Linked DNA regions of Homo sapiens: region 1 is reported to be linked to region 2. The links are microRNA targets in miRTarBase. Many come from high-throughput screens and were not tested one by one. Region 2 holds a microRNA gene; the other region holds the end of a gene's coding sequence.

Region 1 (9,323 bases), not on the chromosome of region 2:
CCCGGCCCTCCGCAGGGTCACAGCTCGGTTCCTCCCAGCCCGCCCTCCGGGGAGCTTAGCAACGGTTGCTACGGCCCGGAGCGGGCGCCGCCCCGCCCCACCGCGCGCGGTCTGACGTCACTTCCGCCCGCGACCCCCTTCCAGACCCGCTCCCGAAACCTTGTCGAAGGACCAAAGGCGACCGGTGCAGGTGCTTGCTGGTCCTTGTTCTTGTGGCGCGGGACGGGGACGACTGTGGGGGAGGGGGCGCTGGGGACCGGGGTGGAGCGAGCGTGGTCCGTTCTCTGGCATGTGGGGAGGGTGTTCGTGGACCCCAGTGCCTGGGAGGGAGCCCCGTGCTGCAGTGTTGGCGTCCGCAGCGCGTTTGGGAGTGTAGATCGCTGAATAATACGGGGGAGGGGGGATCCCGGGAGACTTTAGCAAGGTCGCTGAGTATTGTGGGGGGCGCCTGTCCTGCCGAGATCCTCGCTTGGGGGCCCCGAGGGTTCTCAGTGTCCTGATCTGGGAAGTGCCGTTGCTGCTCCCTACCCCTCGGGGGAGCTTTGGGGACAGAGGTGCCCCCCTGACGCTGACCTACTTATGTTCTCACCAGGTGCACGACGCCAGCTCCCTTCTGGGGGGCCGGGGCCTGGGGGTTGCCATGGCCCCCAGCCACCTGTCAGTGCGGGAGATGAGGGAAGATGAGAAGCCCCTGGTGCTGGAGATGCTGAAGGTGAGAGGCAGGGGCCCCAGGGGGCCTGGGAGTGGCTGCAGTGGGGGAATTGCAAGTGGATTCAGCCACCCCCTCCCACCCACCTGAGCCAGCCTGGACCCCTGGAGCGGGATCTTTTCCTCCTGAGCCTCAGCCGCCCTGCTGCTGAAAACCACAGCAGGTGTGGCAGGTGGGGGCTCACCCCCCCAGCCCTACTGGGACCCCAGCACCAACGCCCTCCCTGGTCTCCCATCTCCAGTCGGCTGTGCACGCCAGCACAACAGCCAGCTCTGTGCCTCGGACCCCAACTCTTCAAAGCACAGCCCAGCACCCCAACCTAGCCCAGCAGCCTCCCTCCAGCCTCCACTCCAGCCTGAGGCAACCTCCCTGTCCTTACTTCCCTGGGGCCTCACTGCGGCATTGCTACTGAATTGAGTGCCCCCACAGCTCCTAATTCACTCATCCATCCATCATTCGCTCTCGTTCATTCATTCACTCCATACCCAGTGTGCCACACTGAACATCGGACTGTGCTGCCTTCCCTTCCCATTTGGGAGCTCTCACCCCGCCCCGGGCAGGGTCTACCTCCTCTCTTTGTCCAGGAGGCCCTAGCGTTTCGGATGGCTGAGCCACCCCTCCTGCCCACAGGCCGGCGTGAAGGACACGGAAAACCGCGTGGCCCTCCATGCCTTGACACGGCCGCCGGCCCTGCTCCTCCTGGCGGCGGCCAGCAGCGGCCTGCGCTTTGTCCTGGCTTCCTTCGCCCTGGCCCTCCTCCTGCCGGTGTTCCTGGCTGTGGCCGCCGTGAAGCTGGGCCTGCGGGCCCGATGGGGCTCGCTGCCTCCGCCGGGTGGCCTGGGGGGCCCCTGGGTGGCCGTGCGGGGCTCCGGTGACGTGTGTGGGGTCCTGGCTCTGGCCCCTGGCACAAATGCAGGGGACGGGGCCCGGGTCACCCGCCTGTCTGTCTCTCGCTGGCACCGCCGCCGGGGCGTGGGCAGGAGGCTGCTGGCCTTCGCGGAGGCCCGGGCTCGGGCCTGGGCTGGGGGCATGGGGGAGCCCCGGGCCCGGCTCGTGGTCCCCGTGGCTGTGGCCGCCTGGGGGGTGGGAGGGATGCTGGAGGGCTGTGGCTACCAGGCCGAGGGGGGCTGGGGCTGCCTGGGCTACACGCTGGTGAGGGAATTCAGCAAAGACCTGTGAAGCTACAGACTGACAGCCAGGGCAGGGGAGGAGGGAGGGGCGCCAGCACCTGATGATCGCCTACTGTCTGCGGGTTCTTTTACCTGCTCTCCCTCAGTGAGTCCTCAACCACCCTGGGCCCAGAAACAGAGGCCTGCCGAGGGGAGGAGCCTGGCCTCTGTCCACCCGTCAGCAGTGTGAAGTCTGTTGTGTTTGAGCTTCTCAGAGTGGAATGACTCCTTTTCCTTCCTGGCCCTCGGGGGCCTCTCGAGGTCAGCCTCTCCAACCCCTACCTCAGCTCCTGTCTGCACTGAGAAACCTCCCCGGGTGATGTCTGCAAAGTCTGTGCTGTCCGTGCCCCAGGCTGGGAGAGCTATCTGGGGAGGGGGAGAGGAGGCCGAGCAGAATACACCCCAGAGTTAGGGTTTGCGACTCCGCCTCCCTGGGACCTGGATTGGGTCAGATGCCTGTCCTTGGAGGGGACAAGGTTGACTGCTTAGGAGGCGCGACGCACAGGGCTGCCAGGCCTGGCCCCTCTCTGGGAAGGTTGAGAGCTGAGACGGGCAGCCCTGTCCCTTCCTCCAGATCCGTCTGGTTTTTTACACCGTTTGTTAATAAAGCCTGAAACCGCTGTGTGCCTGTCTCTTCTCTGATGGCTTTCCCAGTCTGTCTCCGGACACCCCCGCCCATTTCTGTCTGGCTTCTCCTTTCCCCAGTTAACATTAATTGTTGGGGGACGGTGCTGGACTGGGAGAAGGGGAGGCTGTGAGCTCAGGGGCAGCCCGAGGCCCTGCCAGCCCTTCTGAGTCACGCTCCCCATTACCGAATTTTTTCCGCCTCACAGCTGCCTGGTGTGCAGGCAGTGGGGTGTGTGTGTGTGTGTGTGAGTGTGTGGAAGAGTGTGTGGAGCCCCTCCCCTTCCCAAGCCTTGACCCTTGTGCTGCTTATCCCCCGACCCCAGCTCCCTCTGGGACAGTGAAGTTCAACCTCTCCTCTCTCAGCTGGGGACTGGGGGCTTCACACTCAGATCCACCAGTGAGTGGGAGGACTGGAGGGCCGGGTCTTTCAGTCTCTTTTCCTAACCCAGGAAGTCCCTCCTGGTGTCTGGCTGCAAATCTTCTTGCTGCTGCACCAAGAACCCCAGGTCTGCCCAGCCCCCAACCCTAGCAGTGGTCTCACTGGATTTCCCTGACCAGACAAGAGGGGAGACAGCAGGTGGGCGCCCCTCCCGCTCATGCTGCGCCCCCCCCGCACACGTCCCCCAACCCCTGTCCTGTGCCTTCCTGCAGCCGGCCACCCCCTAAGCATCTCTGGGCACAGCACTTTGCTGGCTGGAGCCTGCCTGGCCGTCGTCTCCATCTCCCGTGTGGGTGTCTGCAGTTGGACACCCTCCCTCCCGCCCGCCACCCCCCTCCCCCCCATGCCTCAGCAGACGGCCAGCCCCCTCCCGCCCCCCCTCCCCCCCACCGTCCCCTGCCGCCTCCCTGCAGCCTCTTTCTTCCTCCTGGCAAAGCGTCCAGCCCTGCCTGCTCCTCCTCGGGCCTGGGCGCCTCCAGCAGGCACTTCCCTCCCTCCCTCTCTCCCCAGCTGCCTCCTCCTCTTCTCTCCCCGCTCTCCTTCCCCTTTCACCCCATCCCCTGCCCTGGCTGCAACCATGAGGGTCTTGGCCTGCCTCCTTGGTGAGTGATCCATTCTCCTTGGGGACTCGGGGGGCCTAGGCCCCCACCTCTGACCCCTTAGCTTGTCCAGTTTAGGGACTCAAACTTCCGGGACTGGTCGCTGGTGCTCCTGCATACCCTGACATCCCTTCTGAGGATCCCTGCTCAATCTGCCCAGCCTTCTGCCAGCCCAGAAGCCCAAGGGACCTGCCCCCTGCCCGCCCCCCAGCCCTGACCCTGCGGGGGATCTCCCAGACATCTGACCTTTAGCCAAGCCCATGTGTGTGTGTGTGTGTGTGTGTGTGTGTGTGTGTGTGTGTGTTGGGGTATTCAAGATGAGGGGCCTGCGCTGGAGAAAGGGCCACCCCCGGCCTGCCCCTCACACTGCCCCACCCTCCGCCCTCCCTTCCAGCGGCCCTGGTGGGGATCCAGGCTGTTGGTAAGTGCCCAGACTCCTCCCATCTGCCCGCCCCCCCCCCCAGGCCTCCCCCTTCTGCCCATCCAGGCCTGGCCTCACCCCCACTGGGTCCCCGGCCCATCCGAATTCCACTGTGACCTTGGCCCCAGCTCCGCAAGGGAATCCCCCAGGTGTCTGGCCGCATCTCTCTGAGCACCCAGGAGTCTGGGCCCAGGGGCCAGTGAGCAGGGCCACTGGCCTACAGACAGTACCTGCAGGACAGCCACCTGCCCCTACAGTTGCCCTGGCCTTGGGGCCCCCAGGATGCCCCTCCCCAGTCACAGCCATTCCTCCAACCCTCAGAGCGCCTGCGCCTGGCCGATGGCCCCCATGGGTGCGCTGGCCGCCTGGAGGTCTGGCATGGCGGGCGCTGGGGCACCGTGTGTGATGACGGCTGGGACCTGCGCGATGCCGCCGTGGCCTGCCGGCAGCTGGGCTGCGGAGGGGCACTGGCCGCCCCGGGAGGCGCCTTCTTCGGGGAGGGGGCAGGGCCTGTGTGGCTCAGCGAGCTGGCTTGCCGGGGCAACGAGGGGCAGCTGGGCCTCTGCCACCACCGGGGCTGGAAGGCCCACATCTGCTCCCACGAGGAGGACGCGGGCGTCGTCTGCGCAGGTGAGGACACCCTGGCTGCTCCTTCAGGGGGAGCTCCTTTGGAGATGACCCAGGAACCCCAAGTCCTTAGCCCCAGCAAGTCTGAGTGTTCAGCAGTTCAGAGACACCCAACCTCCCATCCCCTCCAAAGCCAGGTGGCTAACTCCCTCTTCCAGGGACCCAAATGGCCTGGATTCCCCTCCTCTCCTCATAGCTTCTGTCCCTGCCCCCCCGCCGCAGGTCAGCGTGTGGCTAACTCCAGGGACGACTCAACATCTCCCCTGGATGGGGCTCCCTGGCCAGGGCTGTTGCTGGAGCTGAGCCCCAGCACGGAGGAGCCCCTGGTGACACATGGTGAGCCCAGGGGACTGCCCTGCCAACCCCCACCCAGCGTGCCCTCCTGCCCCCCCCGAGGGGAGAGGGACTGCCCTGCCAACCCCCACCCAGCGTGCCCTCCTGCCCCCACCGAGGGGAGAGGGACCTCTGCAGTATGAACTCCCAGGGGACACACAGCCCGCCCCCTGCCCCGCCCCGTCTCCTTCATAGCCTAGGGAGTCCTCCATCACTTCAGACCCTCAGAGACGGAGGCCTGGGCCCCCAGGTGGGAGGAAGGATGAGGGGCTCAGCTCCTGACCCCTGGCTGTCTCCACTCCCAGCCCCCCGCCCAGCTGGGAACCCCCAGAACGCCTCCCGGAAGAAGAGCCCCCGGCCCAAGCAGGCCAAGTCCACCCGGGCCCCTCTGCTGACGACAGGAGCCCCCCGCCAAGGTAAGCTCCCTGCAGGCTCCCCCGACCCCAAGGCTGGTTGCTGTGAGGCCCAGGGCCCAGAAAAACTGAGGACCTGCGGGCGCCCTCTCCTTAGCCGGGGCCCTGGAGGGATCCCAGTGTTCCCCGCGTCCCTCCCCCGGGGATTTAGACGGCCAGGCCTGGTCTCCCCTCTTCTTCCTGCCCTGTCAGGAGGCCCAGGTGTCCTGGCCCGCTCAGGTCGTGGACTCACCTCTTCACGGGCTGCCGGCGGACAGATCTCAGGCCACCGCTCCCTCAGGCCTGTTTCCCCAGGTGGAAATCGAGGAAGGGGTGTTTGAATCATTTCTCACTGGCCACACCGTCCCCTCCCTGCTCACCCCACAGAGCGGCTGCGCCTGGTCTCTGGCCCCCACAGGTGCGCCGGACGCCTGGAGGTCTGGCACGGCGGGCGCTGGGGCACCGTATGTGACGATGGCTGGGACCTGCGCGACGCTGCTGTAGCCTGCCGGGAACTGGGCTGTGGGGGGGCGCTGGCTGCCCCCGGCGGTGCCAGATTCGGGCCTGGTGCAGGGCCCGTGTGGATGGACGATGTGGGGTGTGGAGGAGGAGAACAGGCCCTCCGAGACTGCCCCCGAAGCCCCTGGGGCCGGAGCAACTGTGACCACAGCGAGGATGCGGGGCTGGTCTGCACCGGTACGTCGGGCTGGGGCCTGGCCCCCTCCTGTCTTCCTCAGACCCCAGCTCCCTCTTGCCCCTCCAGGAAGCTGCAGCGGGCCTGCTCCCAGCTCTGCCTCCTGCCCGCCTGCTCTCTGCATGCCCAGCGCCCACTCACCACGCTCTCCAGCCCCTCCTTCCACAGCTCCTGCCGTTCTCCTTGCCAGGAATGGGAGGAGCAGGCTTGAGGCTTGGGCTAGTGCTCAGCCCTGTCCCGGGGCCTAGGCCAGTGACCGTTTGTTTAAGCCTCAGTTTTCCTGAAGGAGCGATGGAGCTAAGAATGCCTGCCTCAGGCTTGAGCCAAGTCCTGGAACGCAAGAAGCCCTGCCTGCCCTCTGCCACCGGGCTGGCCATGGCAGGGGACCGTCTCGGAGACCTCTTGTCTCTGTGGCCAACCTCTGCTCCTTCCCCATCCTCAAGGGAGCTGGTGGGAAGGAGGGAGGGAGGGCGGTGACTTGGGGGCATGGAGGGAGACTGAGGCAGGGTGGGGACACCCACGGGTGAGCCTCCATCTCCCCTCATTCACGCCCCCTCAGCGCGGGGTCTCCTCCCCTCATGTCTCCCAGGGGGTCCCTCCCCTCTCCTGTACCCCTTGGACCTGGGATAGAACCCAGCAAACAGCGGTTGGGGGGTGTTAGGTGAGAGCTCAGGGGCTCCCTCCCTCCTTCTCTCCTTCCTTCCTTCCTCCCTCTTTCCCTTTCTCTTTCCTTTCTTTCCTTCCACAAATCTTTACACACCACCACGGCAGGCCCCACCCTGCTGGACTGCCCGATCCATTGACTGTAGGAGGCCGGCAGGCAGAGGGCACCCACCTGGCATTTCATCAGCGTTGGGGTGGGGACAGTACACGGGCTGCAGGCAAAGCTGGGTGCCTGCCCAGGATGGGTAGGAAATGCTGACATCAGTGGGTATCCAGGGGGGAGAGAAGAGAGAAAGAGGCTGACCCTAGTCTCTGCTGTATGCTGGGCCCTGCGCTGTGCACGTTACCTGGGGCCGCTCTGAGCCTCCCGCAGCCCGGACGGGGTGGATCCTCATCCCTCTCTTCACAGATGTGGGGCCGAGGCTCAGAGAGGTGACGTAAATGGCCCAAGACCCAGGTGCCTAGCAAGCTCCAGCCCCAGCCGCTGACCCCTCTGGGTCTGTATAGACCCACGCTCCATGCCTGTCCCACTGCACAGTCGGCCATAGGGACGTGGTGGGGACACGGAGGTCAGAGTGGGAGTGAGCAGCAGAGAAGGCTTGTATGGGGTGGGGGTGGTGCCTTCGTGTGCCTAGTGTACAAGCTGTGGGGGAAGAAGTGGGACCTTCGGAGCAGAGTTCATTGGAGGGAAGTTGAGGCTCTGGAGAGGAGAGGGTGAAGGTGCCAAGAAAGGAAACAAATGAACTAAGGCGCCCGGTGAAGCTGGGAGCTTCGCCAGCATCTGATTTAATTCTCATGGCAACCCCGGGAGGGAGACGCTCCCCTCCCCTGTCTGCAGATGAGGAAAAGCAGACAGGTGTGTTAGACTCCTCCCTAGTTCTGTGCTCTTCTCTAGAACAGTGATTGGGGGCAATTCTGCACCTGCCTCGTTGGGGGACAGAGAGAGGGACTCCAGAGTCCTCCAATGATGAGTCAACTCTTACCCCAACAGAAATGTACCCGAAGAGCCAGGCATGGTTACAGGCTAACACCTGTAGCCCACGTGCTTTGGGAGGATTTCTTGAGGCCAGGAGTTCAAGACCAGTCTGGGCAACATAGTGAGACCCTTTCCCTACAAAATATAAAATAAAAAAAAAATAGCAGGGCATGGTGGCGCATGCCTGTAGTCCCAGCTACTTGGGAGAGGCTGAGGCGGGGAGGATTCCTTGGGTCCAGGAGGTCGAGACTGCAGTGAGCCAAGATTGCACCATTGCACTCCAGCCTGGGTGACATAGTGAGATCCCCTCCCCCCAAAAATAAAAAAATGAAATGTACCCTATGTATCCTAAGGCCAGCGAGAGGTTAATATCTAGACTAGTGGCTCTCAGCTGGCAAGGGAGTGAGGGCTTTCTCATCCCCTTCCTCCCCAAAGGACATCAGGCAATGTCTGGAGACGTTTTTGGTTGTCGCAGCTAGGGGGAGGGGTTGCCACTGGCATGTGGTGGGTAGAGGATGCAGTGCAGGACAGTTGCCACGATAAAGGAGGATGCCCAATGCCAGTGGTGCTGAGACTTGGAAATCCGGCTCTCTAGGATCCGAGGGGCCAGGCATGGGAGGTGGATCCAGGGGACCAGAGCCAGAGCTCCCAGCGTCCCCAGCCCCCACCGCCCCAAGGCAAGGGATATGGGGGATGCGCCAGAGTTGGACTCCGGGCCAGTGACTTCCTGTCTTGGAACCTTTTCCTCATTTGGATAGTGAAGATGGAATATTTGCTTCCCAGAGTCATCTTGGGGTTGCAGCCTGCCTGAGCATAGCTTAGTCCCCGCTCATCCACCCTCGTTTCCTGGCCCTGTGCTCCCTCTCCCACTATCCAGGCCCAGCACCTCGGCTGCGCCTGGCCGATGGCCCCCACGGGTGCGCCGGCCGCCTGGAGGTCTGGCACGGGGGTCGCTGGGGGTCGGTGTGTGACGACGCCTGGGACCTGCGAGACGCCGCTGTGGCCTGCCGAGAGCTGGGCTGCGGAGGGGCGCTGGCCGCCCCCGGGGGCGCCTTCTTTGGGGAGGGGTCTGGACCCATCATCCTGGACGACCTTCGGTGTCGGGGAAACGAGACGGCCTTACGATTCTGCCCAGCTCGGCCCTGGGGCCAGCATGACTGTCACCACCGCGAGGACGCCGGGGCCGTGTGTGACGGTGAGGGGGTTGTGGTGGAGGACCGGGAGGTGGGCGTGGTGGTGCTTGGAGCGGAGGGGCAAGTTCGGCGGGGGCGGGGGGGTCCCTACGCGCCCTTCCTGCCCTCTCTCCGGACTTTCCACTCCCCCATCTTATTCCCCTCTGAATCCTCACCCTGCGTCACTGGTTCTCAGCTGGGGGTGGCTTTGCCCCCAAGGGGACATTGGACAGTGTTTGGAAACATTTTTGATGGTCACAGCTGGGGGTGGGGGTGCTCCTGGCACCCAGGGGTTAGAGGCCAGGGGTGTTGCTTAGGATCCTGCAGTGCACAGGCCGCCTCCACAGCTGAGAACAGTCCAGCCCCAAATGGAAACAGAGGCGAGGATGAGCCTCAGCCCCGTGGCAGCCCTGGCTGGCCCTGCCTCCTGGCCCCCGGCGGAAGCCAGCCTTCTCCTCTGCATAAGGTCACCCCCCGCTTCTCTGCCACCCCTAAGCTACCA
Region 2 (9,323 bases):
CTCTTCCCCTGGCTCACATGTGGGAGATCAGAGCATCAGGTGTGAGGGTGTTGGGGGCAGGCTGCAATTTCACAGCCCTGTTTTTTTCTGTAGCACCAATCTCTCCCAGAAGGCGTGATGCCTCCGTTTCTCTGTTTAGAGTCTGCCTGCACCACTCCTAGCTCATGAGTGCTGGGTCACAACTGTTTATATCTCACACACACACACACACACTTTAAATAAACTTTTTATTTTAAACTTTTAGATTTACAGAAAAGTTGAAAAGCTAGTGCCGAGCTTCTGTGTCTCCAACACCCAGGTTCTACCACTTATACTGCCATGTGATTTGTCACCACGAATGAACAGTATTGCCTGAAGCCCGCGCAGTGTGCAGACATCACTGGCTTCTCCCTAATGCCCTCTCTGTGCTCCAGGACTCCATCCAGAAGCCTACGTGACATTTCATCATCACATCTCCTGAGGCTCCTCCAGGCTTGGCTGAGTCTCTCAGCTTTTCCTTGATTTTGATAACCTTGACCATTTTGAGGAGTGCCAGTCAGGTATTTTGTAGATTGTCCCACAATTCGGGTGATCTGATGTTTGGTTCATGGTTACATTGGGATGATGCAGTTGGGGAAGGAAGACCATGTGGTATCCAGGGTATGTATTAGGCACAGGAGGATCCCTGATGACACGGGCCTCCAGCTGGCTAAGACACAGCTGCCCAGGTTTCTCCTCAGTGAAGACCGTTTCCCACCTTCAATGTGTACTCTTTGGAAGCAAGTCACTAAGCACTGTGCATACTTCAGGGGTGGGGAGCTACGTTCTATCTCCTTGAGGGGAAGTATCTACCGGAATTATTTGGAATTATTCTGTGCAAGAGATTTGTCTCTTCCATCTACTTATTGAATGATTTATATCAGTCTGGACCTGTGGATATTCTATGCATTGGGTCACAGTCCAGTTCTGCTTTGCTAGTCCCATGTCCCAGCTGTGACCCTTGGGAGCTCCTTCTGTCAGCTCCTGTGTCCCTGAAACCTGCCGCCATTGCTGGGGTACTTCCTTCCTGACACCACATGATGCTCCAGGCTCACCTCGCAGTCTTTGCTCCAACCAAAGAATAAGTCTTTTTTTTTTTTTTGAAACAGGGTCTCTGTCACCCAGGCTGGAGTGCAGTGGTGCAATCCCAGCTCACTGCAACCTCCACTTCCTGGGTTCAAGCAATTCTTGTGCCTCAGCCTCCCGAGTAGCTGGGACTACAGGCATGCACCACCACGGCCAGCTAACTTTTGTATTTTTAGTAGAGATGGGGGTTTCACCATGTTGGCCAGGCTGGTCTTGAACTCCTGGCTTCAAGTGATCTGCCCATCTCAGCTTCCCAAAGTGCTAGGATTACAGGCACGAGCCACCATGCTCAGCCAGAATAAGCGATTTTCACCAAAAGCCTGGTTCCTTTTATGGGAGAATGGCGCCACCAACTAAGGCCTGGGTGGCCTCACTGCTTCAAGGTCCTCTGGGAGCCCCTGGAAAGAACCAGGCAATAAAAGGGCATATACTAACCCTCTCTGCACACCTATGGAGACAAGTCTTTCTCTATCCACCAGACTCTGTATTAAGCGACACATCACACATCACCAGGACTCCCGGGAAGTCACAGATTTTCTCTATGTCAACGATCCTGGGCCAGCAGTTTAGCTCACGTTTACAGAGAGCAACCAGCCAGGTGGCAAATGCATCTATCTTTTTTTGGCGTTGGTGGTGGTGGCTCCTAGCATCTAGCTCGGGGAGCTGCTGAACACTCTATAATCCCCAGGACGGCCCCCACCAGGGATGGAAGCAGCCCTGAAGGTCAGCAGTGCTAGGGTGAAGGCCTGGGGTGCACAGATGCCGCAGGAGGGAAGCCTGGGAGAGCCGCTGCTGCTCCCCTGCCCCGCTTCATTTCCCAGCATGCCGCTTTTCCACACACGACACAGCCCACCCACTTCCTGTTGGTGGTCTGTCTCTCCCCTCCAGAAGCAAGCTCCATGCAGAAAGGGCTCTTCCCTCTTCTGTGACTGCCGTGTTCCACCCACATGGCTGGGCCCTCGGGAGGGCTCGGTGTCTAATGATCCCATGGGGAAAGGGGAGCTGGAATGGGGCAGAAGCCACCAGAAGGAAGGTCAGCCTTGGAAAGGAATCACAGTGGGTTTTCCCGAGACAGAGGGGCGAGTGGCAGGTGGGGTGACAGAAGGGAGGCCAACCCTGCAGCAGGGCTGGGGGCAGTGAGGGCTGCAGGGCCTGGGGGCAGGGCTCCCATGAACTGTGCTACGGCACAGCCCAGGCATGGGGACACCCAAAAGAGAGGGCTGGGGTGCCAGCCTTAGCGGGAACAAGCAGGGAGCCCCCCACACCCCCACCTCAAGCTATGTCTCAAGGCCTGAGCCCCTGGGGCGTGCGCTTGCGTGTGAGTGAAGGCCTCTCTGCTCTCTTCCTGGCCTTCCCCAGCGCCCCTGGCCTCTTGCCCCATTCACACAAGGCCTTTTCCGCCTGGTACCTCAGCTGTGGGGCCTGGCTGGTGTAACTCATGGGGCCCCAGTGGGGGGCAGAGGGGCCACTGGTTTCCTGGCCTGCTGTCTCCACCAGGGTCTGGATCCAGGCACTTCTGCTGACAGCGCCCAGCGCGGGGCCACCATGTGCCCAGCGGCCTCCTGCAGAGAGGCCCCTGGGGAAGCTCCCCACTGGCCCCCTTTCCCCTGCCTAAGGGGAGGCCACAGCCACGGGAAGGGCTCAAGAATGGACTTCAGGGGTCCCTGAGACCCCAGAACTTTCAACTCTGAGTGACGTTCTTGCACTGGGAAGGGCCACTGTTCCTGCAGGTCCGGACTCTATTTTGGAGACTCCGCCAGCTCTAGCAGGAGGGAGGCTCACCCTTGCTTCTGCCCTCAGGACAGATGTGGGGACACTTTGCACCCCAAGTCCTCCTAGCCATGCCCGGCACCTCCCACCAAGTCTTGTCCACACAGGGAGCGTCAGGCCACCCTGCCTGTCACACCCCAGTTGCCTTCCTGTCTTTTCATCTTTTTGCTCTGTCCATCCACTCATCCATTGGTCCGTCCAGCAATAACCTGAGACCTGCTCCGTCCTAAGTGTATGAGAGAGTTCTGCCCTTTGGGGTTTAGTCTGGTGGGGGAGACAGGTGTTAAGACAGTGAGCCCGCAACTCCCCGCTGCGCTAATGCCATGAAGGCAGGGCCAGCCGCAGCAAGAGGAATCACAGTGGGGGCAACTGGTTCCACGCAGGAGTTGAGGGTGCCATGTTTCCAGCATGACCCCCAAGCAGCCACCATGAGTCAGAAGCAACCCAAGACCGTCAGACACTGCGCACTTGCTTCGAGGACTCTAGCAAGCAGAGCTGGGCTCTATGAAGAGTAAATACAAGAGCAAACATCCACCACTCTTTCTACACAAGTTTATTAGGCACCTGCTGGGTATCACGTGTGGAGACAAGCTGGACAACGTAACAATCCGCAAGGCAGCTACGGCCTTGCCCTGGAGCTCCCAGTCTAGCAGGGGTGGAAAACAGGTAAGCCCCCCAGCGGAAGCCCCAGACCTGGCATGCTGTGAGGTCGGGGAAGGAGCGGGGGCTTTCCCGAGGAGGCGTCAGTGAGGGTGGAGAGAGCCTCCGGAAGGGGAGCGGGCACCGGCGAGGATGGCACCGCATCCTGCAGGTGCTCGTGGCTGAGGGTGGGAGGTAGGTAAAACTCCCGGCAGTGGGGACCCACGGGAGACTGTGGCAGAGGCGCGGCACGGCGAGTTCACCATTCCCCAGTGCCCGGCCGCCCCAGGGGACTCAGCAGCTGACATGACAGGGGCCCCTCTTGTATCGACTGTCCTGTCTCCACTCCTGGCACACAGCTGCGGGTGCAGCGCTCTTCAGAGCCCTTCAGGAGAGCCTCCACCCAACCCTCTGAATTAGGCACAACAGGATTGAGGGGGGGCCCTCTGGAAGGGTCCTTTCTCCTCACCTCCCACATGAGGCTGGGCCTGATTTCACAATTTCACTCAGGATCTTCCCTCCTCAATCCTCCCAGCCCTGTCCCATCTCAGTGGCCTGTGGTGGACCCCAGATCCACAGACACAGGCCCTCTCCGCACAAGGGCTCACGTGGTCCCCAGCCAAGGCCCCTACAGCACTTTCTACGGAGCCCTCTTCCCAAACATGCACATCCAGCTTGCCTCTCAGCCACCCCGCCTCCATCTCAGCTCCAAGGAGGCCTTGGCAGCAGGCTCGGGGCGCCATGGAACGGTTCACTGCGTCTCTGCCCTGGCCTCACGTGCTGCCGGCTGGCCTTGCCATTCATCTTCTGAAGGCTATTCTCTGATGGCTCTGCTGGCCACCTTGATCTGAGTGGCAGGTCTGTGCTAACAGTGTTTTGTGTGGGGCCCTGGGAGAAGAGTCCATGAACCACTGCCTAACTCAAGTGCTGCCACGGTGAAGCACCCCTGCCTAGTTCTGAACAGACGCAGCACATCAAAGGGGAGCCGGCAGCTCACTCCTGAGCAAAGCAGCAGGCTAGTTCCTCACAGTCAAGGAAAACCACTGGGAGAACCTCCCTGCTTCTGCTGAAGACCTGAGCTGCTTCTCCCGGGTCCCCCAGTGCTGACAGGCCTCTAGCATCAGGTCCATGTGGCTGATTCTGGAGATCTTTAGGAGGATGGGACTGGCTGTTGAGAACTGTCAGTATGAGTCTGTCTGGCTACTCTGCCTGGGAACATTCACTGAGACATAAAGAAGATATTAAATAGCTGGAAAATTAGGAACCCAGCTAGGGCTGGAGGGGAGGTCTTAGAGGATCATTCTGTAAGTGCTGCCGGGGAAGGAACAACGGTGAGGGCTCAGGCTGGCTCTCTCTAGGGTCCTCCACAGGAGGAAGAAGACCACAAATCTAACCAGCCTAGCAGCCCCAGATACACAGAGCACATGTGGACAAAGCTGTGGCTGCCTGCATTCCATGGGATCATCTTGTATGCAGCAGTAAGAAGGGTCTGTTCTATGACTGCTCTGCTGCCTTTTTTTTTTTTTTAACAGCAGCTGGTTTGGAGTCTCCCACGTATTGCCTGAGGTGGTTTGGTGGTAACCAGCTAACAAAAATCCTTTCATTTTAGGTGCCTGTGGGTGGTGTGGTCGCCACCAAGAATGAGTCAAGCCATTTCTAAAGAATCCACAGTAGGCTCTGTCTGACAGGGTGCATCTGGGAGGGCCTGCCGGGCCTTTATTCAACACTAGATACGCCCCATCTCCAATTCTAATGGACATGTGCAGAAAATGTGATACAGAAACCTGCAGAGCAGCCAGTTCCCAGCGGACGTCAGAGATCAGCTCTTACCTCAAGGATCTTGCTCACCAAACTCTCTTTGCTTATCAAACCTTTCTTTCAGAGGGCAAAGGTTAACTCCCATCTAGAAGAGGTTGAAGTACTATGGTTTTCAAACCAGGAACGTGGCACTAATGAGGCGGAGCTCTGGAGAGGCACAGCTGCAGAAGGTTCCAGGGACCCTTGGAAGCAGACAGGGACCCTTGGGAGCAGACAGGTTTGGAATAAAAACAAAGAGAAAAACAGGGCAAAGGATTAACAACAGAAATGAAACCAGGCGCACACACACTCACCTGCGGCATGATCGCCTGCGGTCACACTCCAACTTGATATCTTGCTTCCAACGGCCAGAACGGCCATCAGTGGAACTTACTTTCACGGGCAATCTTTAGGCTGTTGTTTATTGTTGATTTAAGAGAGAAGCAGTTATGGTTTTGAAAACATGGCCCTTTTTCTGATGGGGGGAGAGCAGGTTTCAATGAAATGGGTGTGGAGTCCCAATCTCCAAGGCCTTTGTGTCTGATCTGAGAGAAGCCATCTGCCAGAGTCAAATTCTTCAGGGCCCTCAAGAACAGAGGGCAAGAAGCCAGGCTTAGATAAGCCTTTTCTGAAGCCCTCTGGCTGGCCAGAGAAAGGAGGCAGGGCTATGGTGCTCCACTGATCCTGTAGGGCCGGGGCAAGGAATGGGAACCCAAGCAGAAACCAGGCAACCAACCAGGATTGTTTCCATCATGAAACAATAGAGCAGGCAAACCCATCTACCTCTGGTCCCAACCTTTGTCACGGACAAAAAACCCAGACCCACACAGGTGACCACGACCTCAGTGTGAGGTAGAACAGCTGGGACCCGGACTCAGGTCCAACAGGTGCCCAGGGCAAAGGGGTCCTCGCACCCCGCCCCAGGTGACCCTCCCAGAAAAGGGGTGCTGAATGCTCATCCGTACTGCCTCTGCGGCCGTGCCATCTAGTGGGGAGGGGCTTGGGCACTCTGTGCCCCACCAGAGCCCCCAGGTTCTCAATCTCCAGAGTTCAGACGCCCGCTCCAGTGGGGGCACCAGGAATGGCAAAGAGATGCCTTCACGGTGTTGATGGTGTGCGCCAGCCACCCATGCACATGACCTGGTGTTTCTGTCGTGGAACTGGAGATGCGGCCTTAGGTGCTGACCGCTGAGCCACACAGGTGGGGCTCACTTTCTCACCTATCAAGAAATATACATGGGAAACCCACAGAGCCCTGCCTCCTGGCCCAGCTGCCAAGACGAGGCTGAGCCGAGCCTCTAGAAGCACCAGGTAGACGAAGGGAGGGAGGCACCACAGTAACCGGAGCCATACCTGGCACCTGGACACCTACCCGAGGGAGCTCTCCAAGGGTGCCCCACCTAAGGCCTAAGGAACCAGCTCTGACTATAGGCTGAGTCCCAAAGGGCCAAGGAAGATTCCAGAAGCACTAGTGAACCTTCTCTACACTGCCAAGCCAGAGGCCTCAGAGAAAGGCAGCCTCTCCCAGATGGACCCTGTATTAGTCCGTTTTCACACTGCTGATAAAAACAAACCTGAGACTGGGCAATTTACAAAAGAAAGAGGTTTAATTGGACTTACAGTTCCATGTGACTGGGGAAGCCCCACAATCATGGCAGAAGGCAAGGAGGAGCAAGTCACATCTTACATGGATGGCAGCAGGCAAAGAGAGAGAGCGCTTGCGCAGGCAAACTCCCGTTTTTTAAAACCATCAGATCTCATGAGACTCGCTATCATGAGAACAGCACAGGAAAGACCCACCCCCATACTTCAATCACCTCCCACCCAGTTCCTCCCATGACACGTGGGAATTGTGAGAGTTACAATTCAAGATGAGATCTGGGTGGGGACACAGAGCCAAACCATATCAGATCCCCTTCAGTGAAAAGACCCCAGCTACCCAATGTGGGGCAGCTCAGCTCCTGCTCTCCCCGCTCTCTTCTTGCCACAAGAATCCCATCTCCTAGTCAGGGAGACCTTCAAGCCAGCAGGGCCCTGCTCAGAAGCCTCAGGGCTTCCCGCTGCACTTGCAATCAGACCCCAGTGCCATGGCCGTGGGCTGCCCTTATGGTGCTGCCTCCTCAGCTACCCCAGCTCCTTCCCTGGCCCCTGCTCACTTCCTGCAGCCAGACTGGTTTCCTGCTTCCCTACAGCTCATGGCCAGCTCTTTCCCACCTCAGGGCCCTTCCACTGGCTGTCCCCTCTGTCCAGTGTGCTCTTTCCCCAGCTCCTGTGACTTGGCAGGCTCCTGACTCACCAGAGCCATCACCTCGGACTCCTCCATCAGCTCCATCATTTTCCAGGCAGCATTTGAAAGGCGACCTCTGGAGCCTGACCAGCCACTGGAGTTCAAATCCGGACTCCACGATTTTCCTGCTGTGTGGCCTTGGGCAAGCTATCTGACCTGTGCGTACCTCAGTTTTCCCATATGTTTGCTATGAAGAGTAAATTAATGCATTTCTCTAATGCCTAGAACATGGTAGGCACCATAAATCAGTAAGAGGAAGGGCTTCTCTGTGCCAAGAAGCCTGAGTGTGGGGCAGGCTGTGCAAGTATGGCTAACCCTAGCGTCCCTTGGAAGCCTACAGGAGGAGACTCACACTTCTTCAGAAGATGAGGGGATCTTCTGAGCCTTCATGTACATGGCTCTGAAGGAGTTAAGGCCTAGCTGTGGTCACAACTACCATGGATTCTTCTCTGAGGCCTGGATGAGCAAGAGAGAACTCTGACCCACTAAGGAAAAGGAGGGAATTCTGAATACGAATACGGATTAACTCAGGGGCCGCCTGAGGCCCACAACAGCCCCAACAGAAACTCCCCTCCTCCCTCACCTCCTCTCCTCTTGAAATCCTTGTGCTGAAAAGCAAGGCCCAGGTTTCATAGCAGCCTGGGCCTCCTCTGGCTTTCCTAAGTCATCCCTATCCCGACGAGAATGAGGGAGGCCGAGGGATGCACAGACGTTAAGTGGCTATGGTAACTGCCCTAGCCATTTTGTGTTTCTGCTCAGCTTACTAAGGGGCCCACCAGGAGGAAGGCAGGCAGCCATGATGGCTCCCCAGACCCGGCCATTCAATGCTCATCCATCAGCCCAGGTCTTCCAGACCAATGTCACAGCAAAGGCAAGGAGGCCCCGGCCAGAACTCAGTTGCTGGGTCCCTGCCCAATTCTGATGATGACCCTTGTTTCTTATAAGATAATAATAGCTCCACTTTACTGCAGGGAGAACAAGTGCAAATGCCTAAGGAGGCCAGGCCCCACTCAGAGATGAGTGACAGGCACAAGTGGTGGCAGGCACAGGGGTGTGTGTGCTGCTGGCCGAAAGGGGGCGGCCGCACCCCAGCTACGGTTGTCTATGGACAGGAAGAGGCAGGCCCCAGAAAACTAGAGGCTCCACTAGACCAGGAGAAGTCAAATGGCCAAAGGCTTCTGTAAAATCTGCGGACACCTAAACGTTGGCGGTCATCATCATTCATCCTTAAAAGAACTCCTGTGTGGTCGAAACATACCATGTATCTGGGTGAGAGCAGGCCTGGAGAGCAGCTTCCGGCTCCATCCCACAATGGAGGCTGGTCACCCATTAATTTGTACTATTAATAAAGGTGGCGAACATTTAGGGACACTTTTCTGAGTGTCAGGTGCTGCTTGTTCTTACTTAATTCTCTCCTGGCCCCTTCCCTGAAGTCAGGAAACTGCCTTGGCAGATAAATAAGTCGCCCCAAGGCCCCGGAGTGGAAAGCAGGGTGCTGAGGTTAGCGCTCACATCTCTCTGATGCCACAACAGGGCCCTGAACCACCAGCTCTGCTCCCTACGTGTTCCCGACCTAGGGCTGGGCTCTGACCTGGCTCCTCTGGCCCTGTCCTTGGTGCTTTCACACAGTTCTGTCCGCCCCTGGCCCCAGCACCTGCGCTCTTGCCTGCCCGCCACCCCTGGCGCCTACTGTTTCCTCATATGATCCTCCCTGCTCCCTCTTCAC

What was found. The annotated mature microRNA hsa-miR-296-3p reads GAGGGUUGGGUGGAGGCUCUCC and lies in region 2 at 3,904-3,925, opposite strand. An mRNA with a match to its seed (bases 2 to 7 or 8) in the 3' UTR can be bound and repressed. Matches are read on the target gene's strand: a 7mer-m8 pairs with bases 2 to 8, a 7mer-A1 pairs with bases 2 to 7 and ends in A, and an 8mer does both.
Region 1: miRTarBase lists NAT14 as a target of hsa-miR-296-3p. The part of its 3' UTR that is shown has no 7-base or 8-base seed match.

What each region holds. Positions count from the first base shown.
Region 1 is chr19:55,485,069-55,494,391 of GRCh38, forward strand. It overlaps NAT14 (N-acetyltransferase 14 (putative)), which reads left to right and starts at 120. Exons shown (of 3, transcript NM_020378.4): 1 at 120-190; 2 at 593-712; 3 at 1,340-2,498. The coding sequence starts at 641. The coding sequence ends at 1,888. It overlaps SSC5D (scavenger receptor cysteine rich family member with 5 domains), which reads left to right and starts at 3,368. Exons shown (of 14, transcript NM_001144950.2): 1 at 3,368-3,546; 2 at 3,938-3,964; 3 at 4,286-4,594; 4 at 4,814-4,927; 5 at 5,230-5,340; 6 at 5,704-6,012; 7 at 8,527-8,844. The coding sequence starts at 3,522. RefSeq lists a silencer at 1-329 and an enhancer at 430-759.
Region 2 is chr20:58,813,723-58,823,045 of GRCh38, forward strand. MIR296 (microRNA 296) reads right to left here and starts at 3,972; the gene lies at 3,893-3,972. MIR298 (microRNA 298) reads right to left here and starts at 4,591; the gene lies at 4,504-4,591. It also overlaps GNAS-AS1.